Regions from separate parts of the Homo sapiens genome. Here region 2 is reported to be linked to region 1. The links are microRNA targets in miRTarBase. Many come from high-throughput screens and were not tested one by one. Region 1 holds a microRNA gene; the other region holds the end of a gene's coding sequence.
Evidence for each region. Region 1 holds the annotated microRNA hsa-miR-525-5p (CUCCAGAGGGAUGCACUUUCU, at 3,002-3,022, opposite strand). A microRNA usually pairs through its seed, bases 2 to 8, with sites in the 3' UTR of a target mRNA and lowers its output. Matches are read on the target gene's strand: a 7mer-m8 pairs with bases 2 to 8, a 7mer-A1 pairs with bases 2 to 7 and ends in A, and an 8mer does both.

Region 2: miRTarBase lists ZNF827 as a target of hsa-miR-525-5p. Seed matches in the 3' UTR shown: 7mer-A1 at 1,166-1,172 and 7mer-A1 at 547-553.

What each region holds. Positions count from the first base shown.
Region 1 is chr19:53,696,182-53,700,568 of GRCh38, reverse strand. It overlaps MIR525 (microRNA 525), which reads right to left and starts at 3,036; the gene lies at 2,952-3,036. It overlaps MIR523 (microRNA 523), which reads right to left and starts at 2,184; the gene lies at 2,098-2,184. It overlaps MIR518F (microRNA 518f), which reads right to left and starts at 554; the gene lies at 468-554.
Region 2 is chr4:145,759,485-145,763,817 of GRCh38, forward strand. It overlaps ZNF827 (zinc finger protein 827), which reads right to left. Exons shown (of 15, transcript NM_001306215.2): 14 at 3,606-3,638; 15 at 1-2,114. The coding sequence ends at 3,623. It also overlaps a transcript of C4orf51 not described here. Among named protein-coding and RNA genes, the nearest start is that of C4orf51, 82 kb to the left of the region's middle. RefSeq lists enhancers at 2,939-3,440, 3,441-3,940.

The DNA.
Region 1 (4,387 bases):
TAGACAGCTATTCAGGAGGCTGAGGTGGGAGTTGGAGGTTGCAGTGAGCCGAGATTGCACCACTGCACTCCAGCCTGGGCGAAAGAGTAAGACTCTGTCTCAAAAATAAATAAAGGAAATTACAAAAATTAGCCGGGCATGGTAGCACATGCCTGTAATCCCAGTTGCTTGGGAGGCTGAGGCAGGAGAATCGCTTTTACCCAGGAGGCAGAGGTTGTAGTGAGCAGAGATCCTGACACTGCACTCCAGCCAGGGCCACAGAGCAAGACTCTGACCCAAAAAAGAGGGCCACTTGAACCCAAGAGATCTAGGTTGGAGAGGGACCACCACACTCCAGCCTGGGCAACAGACACCCTGTATTAAAAACAAAACAAAACAAACATGAAACACCAACATCATCCACGTCTGATTATAAGCATTCTCTGCAAATTTATTACCAAGATAAGCATCAACTTCAACGTTGCTTTTCTCAAAGAGTAATCCTCTAAAGAGAAGCGCTTTCTTTTCTTTTAGACAAGAGAAAGTGCTTCCCTCTAGAGGGTCACAGCATGAGATCTTCTTGCTCCAACACTCTGGGTTTTTTGTTGGAATTTTCCTTCACCCGGTTAAAATGGACACAAAAACAAAGATGCATTTATTGGCCCTGTTTGCATGTTTTCTGGAATCCAGAATATAAACCCCTAAAAGGACCATCTCCAGTTCCTTGCTTCAAAGGATCAGCAGGTTAGCTTTGTTCATCAAAGAGCAATCCTCCTGAGTTTTGTTCTCAAAGAGCAAAAGCAATGCCTCATAGACATATGTACCTTATATTTAACCAAGAGAACTGGGCTGGATTTCTAGAGAAGAGAAATGGATATTGAGCCAGGTGTTCACCAGAGTTCCAGCACAGGGACACACAGTCCCGATGGGAGCATCCAAAATGGAATCTACGATGTTAAAGAATATACATTGTTGTACACACAAACATCCTCCAGGGTAGATCACAGGCTAGGCCCTAAAAACTCCTCAATAAAATTTGAACAGAAACACACAACTACAAGTGGGGCACGGTGGCTCACACCTCTAATCCCAGCACATTAGGAGGCTGAAACTGAAGTATCACCTGAGCTCAGGTGTTCGAGACCAGTCTCGGCAACATGGTGTAAGCCCATGTGTATAAAAAATACAAAACGGAGCCAGGTGTGGTGGTGCATGCCTGTAGACACTAATTCAGCAGGCTTAGGTGGGAGGTAGAAGTCGCAGTGAGCTGAGAGAGATGGCACAACTGCACTCTAGACTGGGTGACAGAGCCAGACCTTATCCAAAAACAAATAAAACATACACTCACACACACACAAACAAACAAAAAAAACCCCAAAGTGATATAAGAGTATTCTCTTCATGTAGAAGAGTATTTTGCACGTATATGGTATTATATATATAAGAATATATAATGGCCGGGCGGGGTGGCTAATGCCTGCAATCCCAGCACTTTCGGAGGCCAAGGCGGGAAGATCACCAGAGGTCGGGAGTTCGAGACCAGCCTGACCAACATGGTGAAACCCTGTCTCTACTAAAAATACAAAAAATTAGCCAGGCGTGTGGTGCATGCCTGAAATCCTAGTTAGTCGGGTGGCTGAGGCAGGAGAATCACTTGAAACTGGGAGGCGGAGGTTGAAATAAGCGAAGATCGCACCACTGCACTCCAGCCTGGTGACAGAGTAAGACTCCATCTCAAAAAAAAAAAAAAAAAAAAGAAAAGAAAAAAGAAAGAAAAATGCAAGTATTAGCCAGGCGTGGTGTCAGGTACCTATAATCCCAGATACTCAGGAATCTGAGGCAGGAGAACGGCTTGAAACTGGGAGGTGGAGGTGGCAGTAAGCTGAGATCACGCCACTGCACTCCAGCCTGGGTCACAGAGTAAGACTCTATCCCAAAAGAGAGGACCATTTGAGCCCAAGAGAGCTAGGTTGGAAGTGCCACCACATTCCAGCCTGGGCAACAGAGATCCTGTCTTAGAAAAAAAAAAAAAACAGAACCCCACCTTCATCCAAGTCTGATGATAAGCATGCTCTGCAAATGTATTAGCAAGATCAGCATCAACTTCAATGCTGCTTTTCTCAAAGGGTAACCCTCTATAGGGAAGCGCGTTCTTTTCTTTCAGACAACAGAAAGCGCTTCCCTCTAGAGGGTCACAGCATGAGATCTTCTTGCTCCAGCACCCTGGGTTTTTTGTAGCAATTTTCCTTGACCAGGTTAAAATGAACACAAAAATAAAGATGCATTTACTGGCCCTGTTTGCATGTTTTCTGGAATCCAGAATATAAACCCCTGAAAGGACCATCTCCAGTTCCTTGTTTCAAAGGCTCAGCAGGTTAGCCTTGTTCATCAAGGGGCAATCCTCCTGAGTTTTGTCTCCAAAGAGAAAAAGCAATGACTACTAGACATACCTTATATTTCACCAATAGAATTTGGCTGGATTTCTAGAGAACAGCAATGGATTTTGAGCCAAGCGTTCACTTGAGTTCCAGCACAGGGACACGCAGTCCTCACAGGAACATCCAAAATGAAATCTAAGATGTTGAACAGGCCTGGCGTGGTGGCTCACGCCTGTAATCCCAATGCTTTGGGAGGCTGAGGCAGGTGGATCACCTGAGATCAGGAGTTCAAGACCAGCCTGACTAACATGGTGAAACCCCATCTCCACCAAATACAAAAACTGAGCCGGGTGAGGTGGCGCATGTCTGTAATCCTAACTACTCAGGAGGCTGAGGCAGGAGAATCACTTGAACCCAGGAGGGGGAAGTTGCAGTGAGCCGAGATTGCGCCATTGCACTCCAGCCTGGGTGACAGAGTGAGACTCTGATTTAAAACAAAAAACAAAACAGAAACCCACCATCATCCAAGTCTTAATTATAAGCATGCTCTGCAAATATATTACCAAGATCAGCATCAACTTCAACGTTGCTTTACCCAAACCGTAACGCTCTAAAGGGAAGCGCCTTCTTTTTTTTCACATAAGAGAAAGTGCATCCCTCTGGAGAGTCACAGCTTGAGATCTTCTTGCTCCAGCACCGTGGGTTTTTGGTTGAAATCTTCCTTCACTGGGTTAAAATGGACACAAAAATAAAGATGCATTTATTGGCCCTGTTTCCATGTTTTCTGGAATCCAGAACATAAACCCCTAAAACGACCATCTCCAGTTCCTTGCTTCAAAGGCTCAGCAGGTTAGCCTTGTTCATCAAGGGGCAATCCTCCTGAGTTTCGCCTCCAGAAAGAAAAAGCAGTGCCTACTACACATACCTTATATTTAACCAAGAGAATTGGGCTGGATTTCTAGAGAACAGCAATCAATTTTAAACCAAGTATTCACTTGAGTTCCAGGACAGGGACACTACAGGACAGACCACAGGCGAGGCCTTAAAAGCTCCTCAGTAAAATTTGAACAGCGGGAGGATCACTTGATCGCAGGAGTTAAGAGTCCAGCCTGTGGAACGTGCTGAAACCTCATCAGTACCAAAAATACAGAACTTACCCAGGGGTGGTGGTGCCTGCCTGTAGACACTAATCCAGGAGGCTGAGGTGGCAGGTGGAGGTTGCAGTGAGCCAAGATCTCACCACTGCCCTCCAGCCTCAGCGACATAGCCAGGCCCTGTCTCATAAAAATTAAAACAAAATACACAAACAAAAACAACTCCAAAGTGATATAAGAGTGTTCTCTGTGTATAGAAGACTATTTTGTGTGTATGGAATTATACACAGAACATTGTGATGAAATATACTCATTTTTTTTTGAGACCCTGTATAAAAAAAAACCAAAGTTCCATATACTATATGCTCACATAAAGCATAATTCCCACATATTGGTGCTTTGACAGCACACACAAATGAATGGGGTGACAGAGATTTCCATAGCCCCCGCACATAGGTGACACCCAAATTCATAATGGGTCCCATATTCAAAATTAGGAAAAAAGGCTGAGTGCAGTGGCTCATACCTGTAATCCCAGCACTTCGGGAGGCCTACGTCGGCAAATCACCTGAGGTCAGGATTCAAGAATGGCCTGGCTAACATGGTGAAACTGTGTCTAAAATACATATATATATATAGCTGGTATGGGGGTACATGTCTGCAATCCCAGCTACTTGGAAGGCTGAGGTTGCAGTGAGCTGAGATCACACCACTGCAGTCCAGCCTGGGAGACACAGAGAGGCTCTTTCTCCAAAAAAAAAAAAAAGAGAATTGCTTGAGTCCAGGAGGCAGAGGTTGCAGTGAGCCAAGATCACACTAATGTACTCCATCTCGGGTGACAGAGCAAGACTGTCTCAAATAGTCAAAGACAGAAAAAAAGAACAGGTCTCGCTCTCTTCTTGATTGTGTATGGGCTCACTTAAGGTCAGGAGTTGG
Region 2 (4,333 bases), not on the chromosome of region 1:
TTACTAATAACATGGAGGATACCACGATTAGCCAGAAGATCGGCAAAACACAATGGAAACTTGTCAGGGGCATAAACTGAACCATAGGACTAAACAGCACCTTTTTGTTGCGTCATTATATGTCAAAGAGGTTGTGGCTAAATCTTCAAACATACAGTCTACTCATTCCATAAAAAAGGTACATTTTCTTCCTTTTATTTTACTTTTTTTTTTTCAGATGAGAAACAAAAACTAGTGCAAGACCATAGCACTGTGCAAAACTGCCATTTCTTTTTTTTAGTCTGAGCATTTATACCCAGAATTTATCCAAACCCCTTTTAATCTCCTTGGCTGGATTTATCAACCATAAATTTTTTCACCCATACATTTCTTTTTCCTGCAAACAAATGGTAACCACTGAATTAATACATCTCATATATATATATAATCTGCCCTTAAAAAATGATGCACTGTGTGTGTGCACCGTACACATTTGTCTACGTGTGGGCACACACACAAAACACACTTAAGTTCTGTGATGTTAGCTGCAGTGCTGCGAGATATTTCTTCCAGATCAGTCACTTGATTCCTCGCCTCTTCATCACCAGAGAAGATCTGAGCGCAAGGTCTCCAGCGCTCTGGCGGAAATCTCCAGCAGCACTGTAGATGGCTACCATTCCTTCATCGACTAAGCACCAGGCCCTACCACTCTGTAGCCATCAAAGAGAGAGGGAAAGGTGATGAAGGAGCACAGGGAGAGACTGTCGTGGATGAACAACCCAGGAGGGAAAAGAACGTTCATCGCTGTTAAAGAAGCCAGTACAAAGAATGTGCAATAGAAATGTCATGGCACACGACACACGGCTTTCTCTTTCAGAATCCACAAACGCCCACACACCGCATTCACCCAACAGAAAACCAAATGCACCAGTATATAAGCTTACAAGTGCTGATTGCTATTAAGGACACTCTCTTTAGGGTTTAACAAGACAAGATTCCTTTCAGAGAAAAGTACGGAGAAGGGCTGAGAGTGGGAGTGGGTGGCTGGGGAGGCATGCCTCTGAAGGTAGAAGTATGCAGTAGGTCACCTCTCTGAAGATTGGATAAAGCAGCTTTCAGGTCAATGCAATAGGTATACACACAGAGCCAATTTTCTATTCCTTACTAAAGATATACAGTACACATGTTCCAGACCCATCGGGGTCTGTAGGTTTTGCAGCAACATACACCTGCTGGGGTTGTGTTTAAGTTTTGTGGTTTTTTTTTTTTTTTTTGTCTTTTGTCTCTCTGTTTTTGGTACAGAACATGGCTGCCCTCAGACAGTCTCTGCTCTTTCTCTCAGTCCGAGATAGGCCAGGAAGGAGTGTTTGGGTGAGGGGATGCTGGGAGGCGCAGTCTGAGGTCGGGGAGGGTGGAATGTGAGATCCAAGTGGTTCTTGGGGTATAACATTGTCAAGGGAATGAGATGGGCAAAATCTGAGTTCCGGTACTTGTCAAAGCGCAAAGGGGAGCCGTTGAAGGCCAAAGCCTTGAGTGCCAGGTTGGGCTCTGAGCTGCTGCCGTGGGCTGCCGACAGGGCCACGGTCTGCAGAGCCTGGGAGGCAGACATAACTGACAGGGGAGACAGGAGATTCCGGGAGCTCCCGACCACCAGGAGCGGGGCCCCCGGGCCGGCCGGTTCCTTGGGGGCTGGACACAGGCCCTTCTTGTCCTCCTCGGGGCAGTCCCCACTCTGGTGCTTCTTGACGTGGCGGCTGAAGACGAAAGGGTGTGTGGTCTTGAACAGGCACTCTTCGCAGCTGAAGGTCTGGCGTGGGGCGTGCTTCAGCTTCTTGTGCAGGTTGAGATTGTCCTTGCGCTTGCAGCTGTAGCTGCACTGGTCACAGTGGAAGGGCCGCTCCCCGGTGTGGACGCGCACGTGCTCGATGAGCTTGTTGGCGGTCTTGGACAGGTAGCCGCACTGGTCGCACTTGTAGTGGTTGCCCAGGCGGTGCTCCCGGGTGTGCGTCTCCAGCTCCAGCTGGTTGGCCTTCACCGTCTGGCAGATCCGGCACTTGTACTCCATCTTGTAGTGGGTCTTGAGGTGGCACTCCATGGCAGCGGGGCGGTTGGTGGAATAAATGCAGAATGGGCACCTGCCGGGGAAAGCAACGCAAGGGAGGTTCAGCCGGGAAGGTTCGGAGGCAGCCGCGCTTCTCGCCGCCTCACCAGCCTTCCCTCACACCACCCCCCAGTGTCTGAGGCCTGGCCTGCCCAGCCCAGCCCAGCCCTGCCGCCTCTCAGGGGTGGAACGGCCCTTTTTGGCTCTCCCTGCTGACAGAGCAGTCCCCGCTGACAAGCAGCTCTGGCAAGGTCCGCTCAGCCTATTCTGGGTCTCTTGGCCGATACAGGCAAGGCCAGCCCTCACCAAGGGGAGCAGAGAAAGTGCCAGGAATCAATTTGCTGGTGCTCCCCTCCAGCCCCCGCCCGGCCCCTCGGAGCCCTCCCCACTCCCGACCAGACAGCGCAGAGGTCTAAACCTCCTGACCTCCCCTCTAGATGGGAGCAACACAAAGAATCGACTTTTCATGCACCACACCAAGCACACGCAGAAAGGCTAAGAGGTTTTAAAGAACAGCTTATAGGGGGAGCGCTACCTCCAGCAAACAGAAAGTCACAGGGGTCAGAATCGTGCTTATTAAGGGTTTGTTAGGATGAGAAGGCCTGTGTGTGTCTCTCTGTGTGAGTGTGTGCATGTGTACATATCTATGTACTCGTAAAACATATCTCCCTACAGGACTAGCTCTTTGTCAGGAAAGGAAGCTGAGGACTATGGCAGGGGCATGGGAGGAGAAGGAAGCCCACCCAACGGCCCATCTGCTAATGAGGAAGGGAGGAGGGAGGGAGACAACTGCTATCTGGAGCTCGAAGACATTATTAATACATGATTATGCCGGAGATAGGATAATAATCCAACTGGATTGGAAATTCTCAGAGGGCAGGACCATATCTTACATTTCCTCTGCATTCTCTGCAGTGCTTGGTAGAGTACTTAACACACGGTAAGCACTCAGGACATACTGGTTCATTATTTGAGTGGTCTCTACAGGCAATTTAGGTAGATTCTGGAAGGGCGGATGCTGGTCCCAGCTCCATCACCTTGTCAGGCTGGAGCTGGACACCCTAGCCTGGGCCTCTCTGTGGCTCGGTTTCTCCATCCTTTGCAGTGAGGCTACGCTACCACCAACCCTCCTGGCTGTCCAGAGGGGCCACGAGGAGTGGTGAGGCCATGTTAACAAACTCTGCTGAGCCTCTCTTTTAGAAGCTGCCAGGCTGGAGTCAGTGGCTTATATGAGAACTGTAGTGTGTTTGCTCTCTTTCCACAAAGAATGCAGATGCAAAAGTGGCTGCCTCAGCTCTTGCTTGGCTCCTGCAGGGCAGGGCTCAGGAGTGGACTGTCCTCGGAGGGTCTGGAGAGGTGTTCAGCAGAGCCCAACACAACCAAGTGCACCGTGCACGGCCTCCTCAGCGCCAAGCTCGCCGTTAGCCTTTGAACCTCAGCTCACAGAAGAGTGCACACGAGAGAAATATAAAGCCCATTCCCAGGTCAGGTGCACACACAACCCCTACGCCAAGCTGGGCCTTACCTAGAGGAGTCTGAAACTCACCACTGTCCTGAGCTACGGCAAAAGAAAAATAATAGTATAATCTTATTTGATCTGCATTATGAACAGGATATAGAGTACAAGCAGTTCCATCACAGAAAAGCAATTTAGACATCAGCAGTCTGTTTCATTTTAAGGACATTTCTGTGACCCACAGCTCAATCTTTCTTTCACTGCTCAGGCAAAGTGCTAAGGGTTTTCCGTGCTCCCGTTATTTTCTTAAAGACACTCTCTCAGGCAAATTAATTCTCTGATATGGCAAAGGAAACAAAACAAAACAAAACAAAGACTCACTGTATAGCCAGAAGGCATTATCAATTTTTTCAAAGTATTCTTCTACTTGGTCATCCTAGAACATAAACTATTACACAGGGGACGGTTAGCACCGCACGGGAAGTGTCTGTACCAGCAAAAGCATCAGAATTCACTGTGCATTCTCCCCAATGGCTTCAGAGGCTGGGGACTTTGGAGGTCCCTGAGGAAAGGCGAACTGGCAAAGCCACAACTGGCAGGGGCTGCAATGTTCATGGGTGTGACTGGGCTACTGGGAAGGGCAGTGAGCACTGGTCCAACCACAGAAAAACATGGTTCTGGTGTTTCTCTTTTTAAAATGAGAGCACACAAATATTTATAAAGGGACAGTGGGAACAAACCAAATCAAATCCCCAAATAAGCTCTTCCTAGGCATTTCCCATCTACTGGTTTCCTTG